Regions from separate parts of the Homo sapiens genome. Here all the other regions are linked to region 1. The links come from fine-mapping of genetic effects on gene expression. A gene starts in region 1. Each other region holds a variant in brackets. All regions are shown on one strand. Distances are from middle to middle.

Region 1 (5,159 bases):
CAGTAAACTATCGCAAGAACAAAAAACCAAACACCGCATATTCTCACTCATAGGTGGGAATTGAACAATGAGATCACTTGGACACAGGAAGGGGAATATCACACTCTGGGGACTGTGGTGGGGTCGGGGGAGGGGGGAGGGATAGCATTGGGAGATATACCTAATGCTAGATGACACGTTAGTGGGTGCAGCGCACCAGCATGGCACATGTATACATATGTAACTAACCTGCACAATGTGCACATGTACCCTAAAACTTAGAGTATAATAAAAAAAAAAAAAATTAAAAAAAAAAATTGTTTGTAGAGACAGGGGCTCCCTGTGTTGCCTAGGCTTGTCTCGAATTCTTGGGCTCAAGCAATCCTCTGGCCTCCTCCCAAAGTGCTGGGATTACAGGTGTAAGCCACCACACCCAGTGTAATTTAAAATATTTTTTTTTTGTAGAGATAGGGTCTCAGTATGTTGCCCAGGCTGGTCTTGAACTCCTGGGCTCAAGCAATTCTTTGGCCTCTGCCTCCCAAAGTGTTGGGATTACAGGAGTGAGCTGTCACTCCTTGCCCAGCAATTTTCTATGTATAGGTTTTTTTTTTTTTTTTTTTTTTTTGAGATGGAGTCTCACGTTGTCACCCAGGCTAGAGTGCAGTGACATGATCTTGGCTCACTGCAGCCTCTGCCTCCCTGGCTCCAGCAATTCTCCTGCCTCAGCCTCCTGGGTAGCTGGGATTACAGGCATGAGCCACCATGCCCGGCTAATTTTTGTATTTTTAGTAGAGAAGGGTTTCACCATGTTGGCCAGGCTGCTCTTGAAGTCCTGATATCAGGTGATCCACCTGCCTCGGCCTCCCAAAGTACTAGGATTACAGGCGTGAGCCACCGTGCCTGGCCTCTATGTATAGGGTTTTGATTTGTTTTTACTTTGCATAATTACAGAATGCTATATTCAACTAAGTATCCATTTTTAAAAATGTGCTTCATATCAGTTTCGTGTGTGTTTTCTCCATTTTTGTTCAGTCTCCTCCTGTAGTGCCTTCAGATCTTGCTGGAAATGTTTTCATTTTTTCTGGTATCATAAAATTTTATTCTTTTCACTTATCTGGGTGAGCTAAAAAGAAAATTAAAATAAAATTTATTTTTCGGAGATTTTTCAGTTTTTGCAAACAGTCGTTAACGGCCAGGTCTGAAAACTTTATCTTAATTTTTTTTTTTTTCTTGAGACAGAGTCTCACTCTGTGGCCCAGGCTGGAGTGCAGTGGTGGGATCTCGGGTCATTTGCAACCTCTGCCTCCTGTGTTCAAGCGCTTCTTGTTCCTTAGCCTCGCGAGTAGCTGGGATTACAGCCTCGCCACCACACCCAGCTAACTTTTGTATTTTTAGTAGAGGCAGGGTTTCACCATGTTGGCCAGGCTGGTCTCGAACTCCTGGCCTCAAGTGATCTGCCTGCGTCAGCCTCCCAAAGTGCTGGGATTACAGGCATGAGCCACCGTGCTGGCCTTAATTTTGTCTTAAAATGAAGTATGACTAACATGTATTTCTATATGGGCCTTTAAGGGTCTTGAAACTGACAGAAATTAATTCAAAAGAATAATTTTACCCAAATGTTTGGGCGCATCATGAATATATACCTTAAAATTCTTTTAAAAAGCATGCGGTATGGTATATTTAAAATTCTTTTTAAAAAATTATGTATAGTCAATTTTCTTATCTAGGCTTCCTAGCTAAAACTTTCCTGCATTGGGTGAACCATTAATAGTTATTCCTAGTGTTGATTTAAACAACTTAAATGATACTATGATTTTTGTTTGTAAATGCAAACCAGAAAATATCTGCATGCAGGTACTAATTTCCTAGGGTAGATGCAGCAGGTAGATGTTGGGATGGCTACACTCACAAAGCCTGATGGCCCGTTTCCTGAACATGCGCAATCACTTTCTAGCCTTTCCACACCATCGGAATATTGCACAGAAGTATGTCAGTCACAGGAGTGTAAAGAATAACATTTAAACTATGGTAATATTTTCATTCAGTAAGTTTCTCCCCTTTCCTTCCTTGGGTTAGATTCAGTGCCTGATTTTTTTAGGCCCTGGGGCGCAAGCATCCACTTTCTCAGAATCCCATTCACCAGAAACCACCCATTTAACTTGCTCTGGGTGCGAGCAGCGCTTGTGACTGGGCAACCTGTGCGTCAGCGTCCCCGGTGCTTCGGCGCTCCGGCCAGTGACGGCGACCAAACCCAGCTAGGTCAGACGAGGTACTGATCAGCCCAATGAGCGCCTGGTGATTCTCGTAGTTAATCACTCTGGTTCATTCCGTTCGATCCCGGAGGCGGGAGTGTTTGGCTTGTCCCTGCGTGTCACGGCAGGGTGACCCTAGCCCCGAGGGAGGGCGGTGGTACCAGTCCTGCTGGCGGCTCAGCGCGGCAGGACACGTGTGCGCTTTCAGCCGGGTCGCAGGGCGCTTATCGCGGCCCGGCAGTCGGGGCCACGCCTCACCCCCGCCCGCGAACCCCGACCTGGGGAAACCCGGGGCGCTGGGGAGGGGCCACTGCGTTCAGCTCTGGCGGTCCACAGCCCGAAGCGCGGCTTAGGAAGTTCGTGTCAGCGCTGCCTGAGCTCGTCCCCTGGATGTCCGGGTCTCCCCAGGCGGCCACCCGCCGGCTCCCATCGTGACCTCCAGCCGCAGCGCCTCCCACGCCGGCCGCCGCGCGAGGGGAGCGCTCGGGCGCGCCGGGTGTGGTTGGGGGAAGGGGTTGTGCCGCGCGCGGGCTGCGTGCTGTGCCCACTCAAAAGGTTCCGGGCGCGCAGGAGGGAAGAGGCAGTGCCCGCCACTCCCACTGAGATTGAGAGACGCGGCAAGGAGGCAGCCTGTGGAGGAACTGGGTAGGATTTAGGAACGCACCGTGCACATGCTTGGTGGTCTTGTTAAGTGGAAACTGCTGCTTTAGAGTTTGTTTGGAAGGTCCGGGTGACTCATCCCAACATTTACATCCTTAATTGTTAAAGCGCTGCCTCCGAGCGCACGCATCCTGAGATCCTGAGCCTTTGGTTAAGACCGAGCTCTATTAAGCTGAGTGAGTAAATTGTAAAACCAGTTTCGCTGAGAGTGTGTGTCTGGAAAGGTTGGTGGGCGTTGTGTATATATTTGTTAGAAAATCGGTAACCGTTCAAACGAGACGACTGAGTTTTTTAGCCTTTCGCAGTTTCATTTGAAAGTGGGTATGCAGTTTAAAACTGACAGTTCAAAGTGGTTTTTCAGAAAATGATGCCCTGGTGCAAACTGATTCTGGGTCCCATAGTGTGTTAAGTGTGGGTTGGTAAAAACTCTTGGCCTTTCTCCAAATGTATGAAATTAAAGTTGATATTGGAAGGATAAAAACCCACTGAGCACAGAAGTTACTATAGGTGGAGGAAACATTTGTTGATGTTAATATTTTAAAGGGGTTGACCAATATAGGAATTGGTCAATGACAATTGGGAATAGGTAAATGACAAATTATTGGTCAATCCCTTTAAAGCTTTGGATGGTTTGCTAAAGAATTATTGAACTCCCTTTTGTAATTTTCTGTGGATAGTTGAGTGCTCTTACTCCCTTCTCAGTCCTAGAGATATCCCCTAAAGCTTGGTTTTTAGGAGGATCTTACAGCTCTCTTATCATTTGAATGTCAGCTAGTCATAAATAAATACACCAGAGTAGTAAGGAAGAGATGTTTTTTATTGATATTCTTTACAAAACAGTGCTTTCAGAGTACAGCTTTGACTGGATTGTATAGATCTTGATGAGATCTTGATGAGAAAGGTTTCAACGACAAAGATGGCATGTTAAGTCTAACATTACCCTTCCATTATAAACATTGAAAGATGTTGGTTATTTTATTATTTATTTTATAATAACTTTTAATTGTGAAATAATTTGAGAGTTACTGAAAATTTGCAAAAAATAGTACAGAGAGTTCCCATAATATCATGCATAACAAGGGCCAAAACTAATAACATGGGCATGCTACTATAATACAATGAACTAAACTACAGACTTTATTTGGATTTCACTTGTCTTTCCACTGTCCTTTTTCTGCCCAGGATCCAATCGATGATCTCACTTTGCATTTAACTGCTAAATATCCTTAATTTTCTCTGATCTGTGACAGTTCCTCAGCCTTTCATTGTTTTTTCATGGACCTTGACACTAGTGAAGAAGACCCGGTCAGTTAATTTGTAGAATGCCCCTCAATTTGTGTTTGCTTGATGTTTAGTGTCATGATTAGATGAATGTTCTGCATTTTGGGGAAAAATGTCACAGAAGTAAAGTTTCCATCTCAGTATGTCATATTGGGTACATGATGTCAATACTTTTTTTTGAGACTGAGTCTTGCTTTATTGCCCAGACTGGAGTGCAGTGGCACGATCTCAGCTCATTGCAACCTTTGCCTCCCAGGTTCTAGCGATTCTCCTGCCTCAGCCTCCTGAGTAGCTGGGATTATAGGCGCCTGCCACCATGCCCAGATAATTTTTTGTATTTTTAGTAGAGACAGGTTTCATGTTGGCCAGGCTGGTCTCGAACTCCTGACCTCTAGTGATCCTCCTGCCTTGGCCTCCCAAAGTGCTGGGATTACAGGCGTGAGCCACTGTGCCCTAGCCGATACTTCTTATTACCTATGATGTTAATCTGTTTGCCAGATTCCCTTTGTATTTGAGATCTTGGGAGAGAAACCTGCACTGCCATTTTTCCTTAAACTTTTATTCATTAATTTAAGCATCCATTTGTGGAACATGTTGTTTAGCGGGTTTTTTTTCCTAATGGTTAAACAAAACCCCTATTTTCTTCCTTCTACATTTTTTAATTAAAATTCCCTTCTGTAGGGAAGAGTTGACCCTTCTCTCCTGTTCATTGATTCAGTTATTTGTATCAGTATGGGCTCATGGATATTTGTTTTGTTATATGGGTTATAATCCAATATTATCAGTATTTAATTTGCTGCTCAAATTGTTCTGGCTTTCACCACTGGGACCTTTTTCAGGTTGGCGCCTGTGCCACTTTGACATACACTTGCTTTTTCTTTTTCCTTCTTTTTTTTTTTTTTTTTTTTTTGAGACGGAGTCTTTGTCGCCCAGGCTGGAGTGCAGTGGCACGATCTCGGCTCACTGCACCCTCCGCCTCCCAGGCTC
Region 2 (5,159 bases), 57 kb after region 1:
TTTAGGTGTTTCTTCAGATGTTTTCTGGAGAAATAGGGCATTAATCTTATTTTAATTTGTTTGTTTTTGAAACAGAATCTCACAATATTGCCCAGGCTGGTGTGCAGTAGTGCAGTCATAGCTCACTGCAGCTTTGAACTCCTGGGCTCATAATTTGTATTTGTGACTTAAGCTTGCTATCTTTTTTTTTTCCCCCAAAGCTCTAGGGTACATGTGCAGGATGTGCAGGTTTGCTACATAGTTAAACGTGTGCCATGGTGGTTTGCTACACCTATCAATCCATCACTTTGGTGTTAAGCCCAGTATGCATTAGCTATTTTTCCTGATGTTCTTCCTCCCACTGCTTCTCGTTGACCCCAGTATCATTTTTTAAATAAGCATTTGGACTATGTTAAAGTGGCCTGTGTATATGATTTAATCCCTCCTGGGATGATTAGTGATTTATTGATGAGGAAAAAATGTTTCAGCATCATCTCTGGAAACAGGTTCTCAAAGTTTTGTTCAGGGGTGAATATTAGTACTTCATAATTTAAAACTGCTCGAGGCCAGTGGTTTAGTTCTCTTCTTTGGGGATGAATTCTCTGAGAGAGGAAAGCACTCTCTGCTCTTTCTCTAACCCGTGTAACTGAGAAACTGGGTTTTAATCATATGTAGAGTATAAGCATCTTTGAATTAATAGCTACCTCTGGAATAACTGCTTTACAGAGTTGTGGTGATAGCTAAACAAATTAGTGTGTATTAAGGGAAAAGGTATACTTTAAAAACAGTATTCAGATCCAGTCATCTCACTTCTAGATATTTACCCCAAAGATGTGAAATCAGTTTATTGAAGAAATTTCTGCACCCTCATATTTATTGCAGCATTGTTCACAATAGCCAAGATACGGAATCACCCGAAGGGTCTGATTTGATAAAGAAAATGTGGTATATATACACAGTGGAAAAACAAAAGAAATTTTGTCATTTGCAACAACATGGATGTAATTGGAGAATATTATGCCAAGTGAAATAAGCCAAACGCAGAAAGCTAAGCACAGAAATGTCACATAATCTCACTTAATGTGGAATCTGAAACAATGGAACTGAAAGAGACAGTAGAATGGTGGTTGCCAGAGGCTAGAGGTGTGTGGGGAATGGAGAGATGATGGTCAAAGGGTACAAAACCTCAGTTACACAGGAGGAATAAGGATTTTTCTTTGGAGATACATTGCACAATGTGGTGAACACAGTAAATAATAATGTAAATTTCAGAATTGCTAAAATTTAAGATACTTTTACCACAAAAAATAAATGTTTGAGACGATGGATGTGTTAATTAGCTTGATTTAATTATTTCACACTTATGATTCATGAATTATATAACTTGGTACCCCACAAATATATACAACCATAATATGCCAATTTATAATTTAAAAAATCAAAATAAAAAATATTCAGACCAATAAGTAGATATAACAGATGTGGATTACCACCTTGAAAGAATTAGAATGAATTAACTTCCTTAATAAGAAAAAACTGTGTTTAAAATAAATCATCTTAGTATTTAGAAGGAACGTTTCCATTGTCTACTTTTTCAGAATCATTATGGACATTACTGTACTGATAGATTTAAGACAACAAATTGAATTGAATCTTTGCTATGTTCCATGTTCTGAAATTAGCTTTTTACTTGATATTAGGTTTATTTGTGTACAGAAAGTGAGATAACTGCATGTCTACCAGGCCTGGCTATTTTTCACTCATTTTAATTATATGTACATACTTTTAAAACTGCTCTGGCTGGGCACCGTGGCTTACATTTGTAACTGCAGCACTTTGGGAGGCCAAGCTGGGAGGATTGCTTGAGGCCAGGAGTTCAACTCAGTTGCAGTGAGTTTATGATCATGCCACTATACTCTAGCCTGGGTGACCGAGGGCAGCTCTGTCTCTAAAAATAAAATAAAACAAAAAAGACCCTAGCCTGTTCCCTTAGATCTTTGTTCTTTAGGTATCTATGGACTCTTTTTTTTCTTTTAATGTAATTGTGTTGTTCACTTGGGTTTGCATTTTTTAAAATGTTCTCTTGTTTTTACGCCATTTAAATGATGTGTCACTTACCTCTTTTTCAGTTTCAACTCACACCCTTACTGTCAATTATATTGTTTTGTTATGGTGTTTCAGGGATGTTGGCATGCTTTCATAAAATGCATATTTGTATCAAAGTGTAGATTAACTTAGCATTTTCCTTTTTATTTATTTATTTTTTAATTTTTTTTTTTTTGAGACAGTGTCTCGCTCTGTCACCCAGGCTGGAGTGCAGTGGCGCGATCTCAGCTCACTGCAACCTCCACGTCCCAGGTTCAAGCGATTCTCCTGCCTCAGCCTCCTGAGTAG[C/T]TGGGACTACAGGCACCTGCCACCACGCCCAGCTAATTTTTGTATTTTTAGTAGAGACAGGGTTTCACCATGTTGGTTAGGCTGGTCTTGAACTCCTGACCTCATGATCCTCCCGACCCGGCCTCCCATAGTGCCGAGATTACAGGCATGAGCCACTGCACCCGGCCAACATTTTCCTTTTTAAATCTAGTTACTTCACTGAGAAACAAGCACTAATAGTGTTCCTTTTCATTACGATACACAAATTAGATTTTTCTTTATCAGTAAGTGTCACTTGGTTTCCTCTGAGCACTCTGGAAACCTCATAGAGGGCTGGCTGTCTTAGCGTGGTCAAGGATAATGTCACGGCCCTGCTGATGGTAGTGTGGTGCATGTAGATTATGCATATAATAAGGGGTTGATTGAAGGTTCCCTTCACTGTCTTTCATTTTGCTTCCACATGACTTACATTCTTTGTTCAACTTTAAAATCAAAGTGGCTAATTGAATTTCTTAATCTTTACAGACTTTATTTAGCTTACCACTTTTCTGTTTGTACATTAGGAATGGTACTTGGCATTTTTGTTAGTTAAAATTATGTATTGGCCTGGCTGCCATACCAAAATACCATAGAGCAAGTGGCTTAAACAACAGAAATGTATTTTCTCTCAGTTCTAGTCTGAAAGTCTGAGATCAGGATGCCAGCATTGCTGGGTTCTGGTGAGGGCCCTCTACCTGGCTTGCAGACTTGCCTCCTTGCTGTTCCTTGTGTGGCAGAGCAAGAGCTCTGGTGTCTCTTCCTATTAGGACGCTCTTCCCATTACACTCTCCCCACCTCCCTATCCTGTAACCTCATCTGAACCTAATTACCTTCCAAAGGGCCCATCTTCAAATACCATCACATTGGGGGTTGGGGCTTCAACATATGAATTTTGGTGGGGGGAGACGCAATTCATTCCACAACAATCCAAGACTGTGAGTTTCAAAATGAGTACCACTGTGGAGACATAAGAGATGGGGAGAGGCTTGATGGGGTTCACGCTTCCCTGTTCCAACCAGAACAGTTTCCCTTTTTTTCCTGCTTAACTTTATACACTGTCATTTGTGGAAAGAGTTTTGTGGGTAGAAAATCTGTCTAAGAATGCTGAGTTGACTGCGGTGATTTGGTTCCCCTTTTCATGGCAGAGCTGGGGTTCTCTTCTTCCTGACGACCAACCAGTGTTTCAGCAGTGTTTCAGCCGTGGAACTCTTTGTGGTAGAGAAGAAGCTCTTCATGTGAGTAGGTCTTTGTTCTGGGAACGGGGCTGTCCAGCAGCAGGGGCTATTGGTTAGACTGATTACATCTGGGGTTGGGGCCAAGGATGGGATCCGGAGGATTACCAGTACTTTTTAAAATTTATTTTTAAATTGATGAATAAAAATTGTATATATTGATCATATACAACATGATGTTTTGAAAATATGTATAGGGGTTACCAATATTCATTGAGAAAAAGCAGCCAGAGGTAGGGAAGAAAATCCTGAGCCTTTGGGACCTGATATCCAGAGAAAAGAGTTTTTCTAGATTTGAGTACAGTCAGAAAATCCAAATGTTGGAGAGAGCAAGCAATAAAGGGACTGAAAAGTATATTTTGTTTTTAGTAAATACTGATGACCTTCACAAGAAAAGTTTGAGGGGCTTGGTAGAGATTAAGCAGCAACTTGGAAGTGGGGAGATTAAGTCGACAAAGAACGTGACCATGCTTAGCCCTCGGTGGACCAGGGAAGTGGCACGAGCCGGAAGGCATTCTTACAGTAAAGAGCAGCCTGGTTTAATTTATTGTATTTTCCTATTTATTTATTTATTTATTTTTTGGAGACAGGGTCTTGCTTTGTCGCCCAGGCTGGAGTCCAGAGACATGATCATGGCTCATTGCTGCCTTGACCTGCGGGGCTTACGCAGTCCTCCCATCTCGGCCTCCTGAGTAACTGGCATGCCTAGCTTTTTTTTTTTTTTTTGACATAGAGTCTCGCTCGCTCTGTCTCCCAGGCTGGAGTGCAATGGTGCAATCTTGGCTCACTGCAATCTCTACCTCCCGGGTTCAAGCGATTCTCCTCCCTCAGCCTCCCAAGTAGCTGGGATTACAGGTGCCCGCCACCACACCCAGCTAATTTTTTTGGTATTTTTAGTAGAGATGGGGTTTCGCCATGTTGGCCAGGCTGGTCTCAAACTCCTGACCTCAGGTGATCCACCCCCTTTGGCCGCCCAAAGCACTGGGATTACAGGCGTGAGCCACTGCACCGGGGCGCCTGGCTGTTTTTTTTTTTTTTTTTAATTTTTTTGTAGAGAGAAGGTCTCACTATGTTTCCCAGGCTGGGTATTTTTCAAGGATGGATCACATTTTCCCAAATGTACATGTCACATATAGGAATTATTAGAAAGGGAAATAATGAAGGAAGTGGAAGAGTTTGGAATTGTGGGAGAAAGATGTCAGGAAGAGGAAAGATTACAATTTGGTAGTTGACAGGGATGTATGGCTGGAAGACATGATCATTGAAAGAAGAAGTCTTTTTCTTTTTTTAACTTGGGAGTAGAAGAAGTAAGAAGAGCTTAGTCATCTGAAGCTGCACTAGGGGGCTTGGAGAATAACAGGCCACCTTCCTCATCAGAAATAGGGAAAAAGAAAAGCTTCTATTCCTGCCAAAATCGGCTACTGAAGTGCTGTTCTTCAAGGAAAGCCCCCGTCAAAGAAGGAAAAGAAGCATTCTTTGAAGAGAGGGAGGATGTGTGGAATCTGTTTCCCTGGACTGAGTGTTCAGGAGCTAGAA
Region 3 (5,132 bases), 73 kb before region 1:
TCTAAAGAAAACTTTGAGGAAACTCTCCAGGACATTGGACTGGGCAAAGATTTCTTGAATAATACCCCAGAAGCACAGGCAACCAAAGCAAAAATGGACAGATGGGACCATATCAAATTTAAAAGCTTCTGTACAGCAAAGGAAACAATCCACAAAGTGAAGAGACGACCCACAGAATGGGAGAAAATATCTGTAAACTCTCCATTTGACATGGAATAAATAACCAGAATATACAAGGAGCTCAAACAACTCTATAGGAAAAATATCTAATAGCCTAAGTATAAAATGGGTGAAAGATTTGAATAGACATTTCTCAAAAGAAGATGTACAAATGGCAAACAGGTATATGAAAAGGCTCTCAATATCACTGATCATCAGAGAAATGCAAATCAAAACTACAATGAGATATCATCTCACCCCAGTTAAACTGGCTTTTATCTAAAAGACAGTCAATAATAAATGCTGGTGAGGATAGAGAAAAGAAAGCCCTCATACACTGTTGGTGGGAACATAAATTAGTACATCCACTATGGAGAACAGTTTGGAGGTTTTTCAAAAAACTAAAAGTAGAGATACCATATGATCCAGCAATCCCACTCCTAGGTATAAATCTAAAAGAAAAGAAATCCGTATATTGAAGAGATATCTGCATTGCTATGTTTGTTGCAGCTGTATTCACAATAGCCAATATTTGGAAGCAACCCAAGTATCCATCAACAGACAAATGGATAAAGAAAATGTGGTACATATACACAGTGGAGTGCTATTTAGCCATGAAAAAGAATGGGATCTGGCCAGGTGCAGTGGCTCATGCCTGTAATCCCAGCACTTTGGGGGCCGATGTGGGCAGATCACGAATTCAGGAGATTGAGACCATCCTGGCTAACGCAGTGAAACCCCGTCTCTACTAAAAATACCCACATGGTGGCGGGTGCCTGTAGTCCCAGCTACTTGGGAGGCTGAGGCAGGAGAATGGCATGAACTCGGAAGGTGGAGCTTGCAGTGAGCTGAGCTTGCACCACTGCACTCCAGCCTGGGTGACAGAGCGAGACTGTCTCAAAAAAAAGAAGAATGAGATCCTATCATTTGCAACAATACAGATGGAACTGAAGGTAATTATGTTAAGTGAAACAAGCCAAGCACAGAGACACAAACGTAACATGTTCTTACTTATTTGTGGGAGCTAAAAATTAAAACAATTGAACTCATAGAGATAGAGAGTGGAAGAATGGTTACCAGAGGCTGGGAAAAGTATTGGGGAGGTGGGGGGAAGTGGGATGGTTCATGGGTACAAAAAATAATTAGAAAAAATAATTAAGACCTAGTATTTGCTAGCACGACAATGTGACTGTAGTCAAAAATAATTTAATTGTCCACTTAAAAATAACAAAAACACATTAGTCACATGTGGTGGCACACACCTGTAATCCCAGCTACTTGGGAGGCTGAGGCAGGAGGATTGCTTGAACCCTGGAGGTGGAGGTTGCAGTGAGCTGAGATCATACTGCTGCACTCCAGCCTGGGCATTAGAGTGAGACCCCATCTCAAAAAAAATAAATAAATAAATAAATAAAATGAAAAAAGTATAATTGGATTGCTTATAATACAAAGGATAAATGTTTGAGGTGGTGGATACCCCATTTACCCTGATGAGATTACCACACATTGTGTGCCTGTATGAAAATATCTCATGTACCCCATAAATATATACACCTACTATGTACCTACAAGAAATAAAAATTTAAAATTAAACAGAAAAAAAAAATCCCTGACGGAGTTATTGCTTAATGATTACAGAGTATCTGTTTGGGGTGACAAAAAAGTCTTAGAAACAGTGACGGTGACACAACATTGTGAATGTAATTAATGCTACTGACTTGAACTCTTAAAATGTTTCAAATGGCTAATTTTATGTTATACATATTTTACCATATTAAAATAAATTTATAAAAATAGATAAATGGAATTTCTTAACAACTTCAAGATTTTTTAAACGTTCATTTCATTTCAATAAATATTTACAAAATGCCTAATTTGTCCTAGGTACTGCACAACACAGTGAATAATCAGGATAGTGACTTAAATATAAACAGAACTTAACAGCAAGACAAATTCAGTAATCGGTATTTTGTGAATCTCATGAAATTTATCATGACAACTCTGTAAGGAAGGTATTATTGTTATCACTATTTTATTGTTGGGGAAGGCTTGGCTTAAGAAGCTTTTCAAGGCCAGTAAACAGTGGAATTAGAAGCACTTAGTAAATGTCATATTTTTTCTTTTGACATCTATCATGTTTTCAGAATATGAAATGCCTATTTAACTCCAGCCTGGGTGACAAAGTGAGATCTTGCCTAAGAAAAAAAAAAAAAAAAGCCAGGTTTGGTGGTTCATGCCTGTGATCCCAACACTTTGGGAGGCTGAGGTGGGAGGATTGCTGGAGGCCAGGAGTTCGAGACCACCCTGGCCAATATAACAAGACCCCGTCTCTATTTAAAATACACACACACACACACACACACACACACACACAGAGAGAGAGAGAGAGAGAGAGAAATGCCTATTTAGCACAGTCTTGACTTCCTATTT[T/G]ACTTTTGGTTTAGGAAAGAATAACATGAAAAGTATAGCATGCTCCAAGTATACAGCTTCTCGGTCCTCTTTAGATTTCTGGTGGGCCTTTGCATTGAAACCTAACTCTTTGTTTTGGTTTAATTCGCTTCCTTTTCAAATTATGTCATAGTCCTGCTTGGTTGTTTTTTTGTGTGTGCTAGAAGGCAGGGCCTGTGAGAGGAGACCCTCAGTTACATCAGGGTTAAAAAAGCACAGGAAGTTTACGCACAGAGCAAAGCCATTTGCTAGAATTGGTTTTTATCCTTCCATTTCGAAAATAAAGTTGCTGTTTGTGTTGGAGATGCTGTCATCAGAATTCCGCGGCACAAAGAGAAAGATACAAAAATATCTCTCTGACATGTAACTTTCCCCCTTCTTCTAGCCCCTTGCTAGGAATGCCAGAAGAGGATCCCACGCTGACTGGAACCATTAGGTCTTTTGTTTGAATCCCAGTGATCGAGAAAGAAATGTGGTTCATAATCAGCTAGTAGTGGAGAAAAAAGGAACCCAAGGAGATAGGAGAGCTGTTAATTTCACTCGGGACATTTCCTCGAGGCTAGTTTACTCGGAAAGCCTCAATGTTCCCTGGTAGCTGCAGGATCTACTTTGGGGGCTGCCAAGTTTCCTCTCTCATTCTTTCTCCTGCCCCAAGAGCAGGCAGGAAGGAAAGTTCCTGGACTGATACTCGTCTGTTTAGTAGGCGTGGGTCCTGGTTGAAGTCTGTCTAGGAAAACTCCTAAGTGTAGAAATCTTCTTCGTATTACCACTGTCTCTGCACTGAGATTTGGGCTGCTTTGCTTCCAGCGTCACACATCATAACTGAGGTGAGTTGTTTGTTTTTGTTTTTTCCAATCTTCATACTTCGTAGAAAATCTTGATTCTTTTTTGATATGTGCTTTAACAAATGTGTCACTTAAATTGGTACTTCTCATACACTAACTTGCATATGTATCACCTGGAGATCTTGCTGAAACGCAGGCTCTGCAGAACTCAGGGGGCCTGGGGTGGGCCTCTGATTCTGCACATCTCAGCTGACCTCTATGGACCACACTTTGAGTAAAAAGGGCTCAAACTCTGTCAGTTTTTTGCATTTTTGGAAGGGGTTGGGCATTGTAGGCAGGATAAGGGTATTTGGCTGAACACATGATTTATGTTGAGCACCTGAGAAGACAATCAGACAACATCCTTTTCCTGGCTGTACCTACTTTGATGGCTATCTCTGTGCTTTGGGGTTTCTGTTAAGCAGATCCTAGGTGTGGTAAGCCAGATTACCCCTAAGTGAGAGAGGATGTTGGGCTTCTCCTTAGATTATATAGGCCACTTGGAGCAGAGCCAGAAATCCTTTTGTAATTTTTGTATTAACTGCCTATATCATGCCTCATCTGGTGTGGCTGGTGGTCACTTTGAACATTTCAGCTTAAATTGAAAATATGGCCGGGTGCGGCGACAGTGCGAGACTCCGTCTCAAAAAATATATATATATATATATATATGTGGCCAAAAAAAAAAATATATATATATATATAACAGGTGCGGTGTAATCATGCCTGTAATCCCAGCATTTTGGGAGACCGAGGCAAGTGGATCATCTGAGGTCAGGAGTTCGAGACAAGCCTGGCCAACATGGTGAAACCCTGTCTTTACTAAAAATACAACAATTAGCTGGGCGTGGTGTCACACGCCTGTAATCCCAGCTACTTGGAAGGCTGAGGCAGGAGAATCGCTTAAACCCAGGAGGCAGCATTTGCAGTGAGCTAAGACCGCGCCATTGTACTCCAGCCTGGGTGACAAGAGCGAAACTCTGTCTCTAATAATAATAATAATAATAATAATAATAATGCATGCCAGAAAAAATAGCTGATTTCTTTCTCCTATCATTCAGAATTGAAGATTATAAGGCATATGAATCTATTACATTGTTGAAAATCAGTTTGCATAGGGAATAGAATGTATTTTATCCTCCTGTAACAGGCCTGGTAGTGTTCTTTAAATGCAGTATGTTCCTTGTCCCAAACAATTTACAGTTATCTGAAAGTTGCATTTAACCCAAAAGAAACAAGCCAAGAGGAAAAAAGAGAATGGCGAGGAAATATACCTATTGTGTCCCCAGTTGAGGGGAGAAGAAAGCAATGGGAAAAAAGTGGGGAGAAAAGGAGAATGGTGGCCAGGAGTTGACAGGAGACACAGCTTCACAAAATGAATAAAAGGAACCCTATCCTGGAAATAGAATCTTTCCCACACATGCATGGGCGTTCTCCTAGAGTAGAAGCTTGTATCTTTCTTAGTTGGAAAAATGTGACAGAGACAGAGTAGGTAGGTTGTAAATTTTGTTCTATTTTTTTATAGAAACGGGATCTCATTATGTTGCCCAGGCTGGTCTCGAATTCCTGGGCTCATGCGATCCTCCCATCTCGGCCTCCTAAAGTGCTGGGATTACAGGTGTGAGCCACTGTGTCCAGCCAATTTTGTTGTTCTAGTGAAGATGCTGAAGCCATTTGTCATAAATCAAGGAAGGGCTATAC
Region 4 (5,159 bases), 82 kb before region 1:
TTTAAATAATAGAGATGTATATTTGCATCCTGCCTCCCAATGCCATACTTCCCAGAGATTGTTGCCATTTGGGGGCATGTCTTTCAGAGTTTCTTCTAGGTGATTTTGTAAATAAATGAATACTAGATACATACAGAAATATATATTTTTGTTCTGTGAGGTGTGTGTATGTGTGTCTGTCTGTGTGTGTCTTTTAATATCAATGAATTTATATGCCCTGTGTTAATTAGCAGCTTGCTGTTTTCAATTAATATGTATTGGAGGTCTTTGTCAATATAGCACATGTATTTCTATCTCAAACTGTTGCATAACATTCTATTGTATGCATTTGCTGCATTTTATTTACTCGTACCCTTGGAGATAAGCATTTAGGTTCTAGTTTTTCCTTCTTTCCTTTCTTTTCTACCTTTCTATATTGAATTACAATGGTCTTAATAGTATATTTAATAACATAAAATAACGTGTTACATCTGTTGAGGAGGAAACACATTATCCTCTACCTTCTCAGATTCTCTGGTTGGGACTAAGAATTAAACAGACATAAGATGGATAAACAGGAGAAAAGTAGACAAGCTTTATTAAATTTTTACATGTACATGGGCTTTCACATGACGCTCTAAAGAAGTGACTAGAGCAGAAATCTTTCTAAACATTTTTGACAAAGAAATTATACATTTATGAAGAAATAACAAGATAAAGGGGTTTGGACTGGAGGTAATAAATTGTGGGGAAATGACTGGGAGATATATGAATGGGGGTAAAACTAGTAAGATATAAGGATTATTTATTAAGTTTGTTTATGCAGATCCATTTCAATGTCGATTCCCAGTCTCTGGTGATAAGGATTTCTTGTCTTTCTGGTATAAGGAGGGCACCTTCCTCATGGGAAGTTTTATGGCCTATTCTTAAATAGAAAAGGGGAGGTCAGAGAGCCCTTCCTGCGTCAGCTCTTTCTCAAGTGCCTTCAGCTCAAAATAGTTAACATGCCAAAGCAGCATATTTTGGGGCAGCATGACCTTAACTCCTTCACATGAAACATGGGAGGAAATTTGAAAATTAAAGCTTGTGTTATCTTCTGTCAGAAAAAAAAGTATGTGTTTTCTAAATTGGAATCATTTAGATTTGCCCCAAAGGAAAAAAAGTCTTTGGTTACTTCTTAACGAAGGATTTATCTAACATTTATTATTCTGGAATAGATGGAAATCATGAGAGCTGGAGCCCAGTTTCTCTCAGCTTTGCTGAGTTCACTTGGTCATCTTGGCCAAGTTGGCATGAAGTCTACATCAGTAGAAAGTGAGGATCTAATATCACAACTTGCCTCATCCCACACTGCGCTCCCTTCTCCAATTACCTACAGCCTGAACCAATATGGCATTCAGCCAACACTTTTCAGGTCATGTGTGTTAGTCTTGTCAACTCAACCTTGACACCAACCCTGGAGGGCAGAAATCACCCCTTTTTCTCCTGAACAGTGCCTAGCTGATCCTTAGAAACATAGTTATTTACTTTCAATATGTGTTAATTATCTTTAAAACTGTATTTGCAGGTTAGCTTTATTTTGTTTAGAAAAAATCTTAGAATAAAAGTCTTACCACCTCTATAGCTGTATCAGAACTTCTTTTAAGTGTATCACTAGGCCGGGTGCAGTGGCTCACGCCTGTAATCCCAGCACTTTGGGAGACCAAGGCAGGTGGATCACCTGAGGTCAGGAATTCGAGACTAGCCTGGTAAACATGGTGAAACCCCGTCTCGACTAAAAATATAAAAATTAGCTAGGTGTGGTGGTGCATGTCTGTAATCCCAGCTATTTTGGAGGCTAAGGCAGGAGAATCGCTTGAACCCAGGAAGTGGAGGTTGCAGTGACCCAAGATCATGCCACTGCATTCTAGCCTGGGCAACAGAGCTAGACTCTCTCTCAAAAAATGAATAAATAAATAAATAAATAAACAAATAAATAATAAAAGAAGTTTAGATATATCCACAGAAATGGCAGAAATTTCATACCAAGGTTTGTCTAAACTTGGTTTCTACCTGGAATAAAGAATAATCTGCCAGGTATAGTGGGGCATGCCTGTAATCCCAGCTACTAGGGAAGCTGAGGTGGGAGGATTGCTTGAGGCTAGGAGTTTGAGACCAGCCTGAGCAACATAGCAAAACCCCATTTCTGGGGGGAAAAAGAATAATCTCACACATATTTCAAATGTATGTAGATTTATGTTGTGTGATTAAAATATGTTTATTTTAAAGAGTTATCTATGTTGTTATTGGCATTTTGTACTTTCTCTTCCGGGATACTTAAAGTGCAAATACTACCATGAGGAAAGAGGGAGTCTTACCAAATGAAAAAATGATCCTCATATTTACAAAACCCTGGCCAGGTGCATTGGCTCATGCCTGTAATATCAGCACTTTGGGAAGCTGAGGTGGAAAGATTGCTTTAGCCCAGGAGTTTGGGACCAGCCTGGCCAACATGAGACCCCATCTGTATAAAAAATGTCAAACATTTAAAAAACTAGCCAGGCATGGTGGTGCAAACCTGTGGTCCCTGCTACTTGGGAGGCTGAGGTGTGCTTGAGCTCCGGAGGTTGAAGCTGCAGTGAGCTGTGATAATGCCACAGCACTTTAGCATGGACAACAGAGTGAAACCCCATTTTTTAAAAAACAAAAAAAAAAATCAGAGAGAGAGGGCAGAGCAATATGGGTGAATAGAAGGCTCCACTGATTGTCCCCAGAGAGGAACACCAAATTTAATAACTATCTATACATAAAAAGCATCTTTCTTCAGGCAAGGCAGTCATGAAAGAAATAATATAAAATAAAGCACCTTCCTAAGAATGAAAAATCAGGTGAGCACTCACAGTGCCTGGTTTTAACTTCATATTGCTGACAGAGGCACTGAAGAGGGCAAGAAAGACAGTCTTGAATTGCTGATGGCACCCCACCCCTATCCTCTGGCGATGGCC[G/A]TAGGTGCAGAGAGAGAATCTGTGCACTTGGGAGAGGGACAGTGCAGTGATTGTGAGAGGCATTGAACTCAAAGCTGCCCTGTCACAACAGAAAGCAAAACTGGGCTGAACTCAAATGATGCCTGCCCATTGAGGGAGCACTGAGACTAGCCCTAGCCAGAGGGGAATGGCCCATCCCAACAGTCAGAACTTGAGTTCCAGCAAGTCTCATCATTATGACCTAAAATGCTCTGGGGCCCTAAATAAACTTGAAAGGCAGTTTAGGCAATAAGGACTGCAACTCCTACACAAGTCTTAGTGCTGAGTTGGGCGTGTAGCCAGTGGACATGAGGGACATGTGACCTACTGAGACACCAGCCAGGGCAACTACAGGAGTGCTTGCACTACCCCTCCCAAAACACCAGGCAGCACAGCCCTCAGCTGCAAAGGAGAAGCCTTACTTCTGCTTGAGGAGAGGAGAGGAAAGAGTAAAGAGGAATTTGTCTTGCAACTTGGATACCAACTCAGCCGCAGTAGGATAGGGCACTAGTCAGGGTCATTAGGCCCCCATTCCAGGCCCTAGTTCCCAGACAGTATTTCTAGACATACCTTAGGCCAGAAGGGAATCCACTGCCTTGAAAGGAAGGACCTATCCTGGGAGGAATCATCACCTGCTGATTAAAGAGACCTTGGGCCCTGAATAATCAGCAGCAGCACCCAGGCAGTACTTGCCATGGGCCTTGGGTAAGACTCAGAGATATGCTGGCTTTAGATGTGAACCAGCACAGTCCCAGCTATGGTGGCTATGGTGAGAGACTCCTTTTGCTTGAAAAAAGCTGAGGGAAAAGTAAAGAGGACTTGATCTTGCACCTTAGGTACCAGCTCAGCAACAGTGGGGTAGAGTAACAAGTGGGCTCTTGGGGCCCCTAATTAGAGGCCTTGGCTCTTAGATGGAATTTCTAAGCCTTCCCTGGGCCAGAAGGTGGACCATTTCCCTGAAGAGTGAGTCCCAGACCTGGCAGCCTTCAGCATAAGCTGACTGAAGAGCCCTTGGGCCTTAGTGAACCTCGGTGGTAGCCCGGCAGCACTCCCCTTGGGCCTGTGGAGGTGATGGCCATGGGTGAGTTTCCTCTGCCTGTAGAAAGGTGAGGAAAGCGTAGAAATAACTGTGTCACATAACTTGTGTGCTAGCTCAGCTGTGGTAGAATAGAGCACCAGGTAGATTACTAAGATTTTTGACTCTAGTCCCTAGTTCATGGATGGCATCTCTGGAAAAGAATAGGGTCTAGGGGAACTTGCTGCCCTGAAGAGAAGGACACAAATCTCGCTGGCTTTACCACCTGCTGATTGCAGAGCCCTAGGGCCTCGAGTGAACATAGGCAGTAGCCAGGTACTGGTTACAACAGGCCTTGGGTGAGACTCAGTGCTGTGCCAGCTTCAGGTCTGTCCCAACTCAGTCCCAGTGGTGGTGGCCACAGGGGTGCTTGTGTCACCCCACCCCCAGCTCCAGACAGCTCATCACAGAAAGACAGACTCCATTTGCTTGGAAGAAAGTAAGGAAAGAAACAAGAATCTGCCTGGTAATCCAGAGAATTATTCCAAATATTATTCAAGATTATCAAGGCAGTACCTCTATGAGTCTGGAAGAACCATAGTGTTACTGGGCTTGAGATGCCCCCTAATGTAGATATGTCTTAGATCTCAACACCCAAGTCTTTTTAAATGCCTGGAAAGAGTGCAGAGACTACCATAGATATCTGACTCTTCAATGCCCAAACGCCAATGAACATCCACAAGCATCAAGACCTTCCAGGAAAACATGACCTCACCAAATGAACTAAATAAGGGAACAGGGAACAATCCTGGAGAAGCAGAGATATATGACCTTTCAGACAGATAATTCAAAATAGCTGTTTGGGGGAATGCAAAGAAATTCAAGATAACACAGAAAAGGAATTTAGAATTCTGTCAGATAAGTTTAACAAAGAAATTGAAATAATTAGAAAGAATCTAGCAGAAATTTTGGAGTTGAAAAATGGAATTGACATGGTGAAGAATGCATCAGTCTTTCACCAGCAGAATAAATCAAAACAGAAGAAAGCATCAGTGAGCTTGAAGACAGGCTACTTGAAAATATACAGTCAGAGGAAACAAAAGAATAAAAAAATATAAAGTATGCCTAGAAGATCTAGAAATTAGCCTTAAAGGGGCAAACCT

Which allele goes with the higher level. Positions count from the first base shown, and alleles are read on the strand shown. Sizes are in standard deviations (SD) of each study's normalised expression. Not every link is listed here.
As copies of C replace T in region 2, the expression in pancreatic islets of the gene that starts at base 2,814 in region 1 goes up (moderate effect, 0.64 SD a copy in PISA).

What was found. PIP is the estimated chance that this variant, and not a neighbour inherited with it, causes the effect. A credible set is the group of variants that fine-mapping cannot tell apart.
Region 2: its variant is the best candidate, but not a certain one, in a credible set for the expression of ABCG2 in pancreatic islets (PISA, PIP 0.55).
Region 3: its variant is the best candidate, but not a certain one, in a credible set for the expression of ABCG2 in whole blood (INTERVAL, PIP 0.71).
Region 4: its variant is the best candidate, but not a certain one, in a credible set for the expression of ABCG2 in whole blood (INTERVAL, PIP 0.87).

What each region holds. Positions count from the first base shown.
Region 1 is chr4:88,156,294-88,161,452 of GRCh38, reverse strand. ABCG2 (ATP binding cassette subfamily G member 2 (JR blood group)) reads left to right here and starts at 2,814. Exons shown (of 16, transcript NM_004827.3): 1 at 2,814-3,067. It overlaps LOC124900867, which reads left to right and starts at 1,897. Exons shown (of 2, transcript XM_047416558.1): 1 at 1,897-1,983; 2 at 2,371-3,067. The coding sequence starts at 1,897. The coding sequence ends at 2,880. RefSeq lists a silencer at 2,528-2,747.
Region 2 is chr4:88,099,697-88,104,855 of GRCh38, reverse strand. ABCG2 (ATP binding cassette subfamily G member 2 (JR blood group)) reads left to right here. Exons shown (of 16, transcript NM_004827.3): 11 at 3,537-3,626. Among named protein-coding and RNA genes, the nearest start is that of ABCG2, 56 kb to the left of the region's middle. The variant C/T (reference allele first, on the strand shown) is at 2,374.
Region 3 is chr4:88,229,296-88,234,427 of GRCh38, reverse strand. It overlaps a transcript of ABCG2 not described here. Among named protein-coding and RNA genes, the nearest start is that of PPM1K, 53 kb to the left of the region's middle. The variant T/G (reference allele first, on the strand shown) is at 2,590.
Region 4 is chr4:88,238,555-88,243,713 of GRCh38, reverse strand. No RefSeq gene overlaps it. Among named protein-coding and RNA genes, the nearest start is that of PPM1K, 43 kb to the left of the region's middle. The variant G/A (reference allele first, on the strand shown) is at 2,964.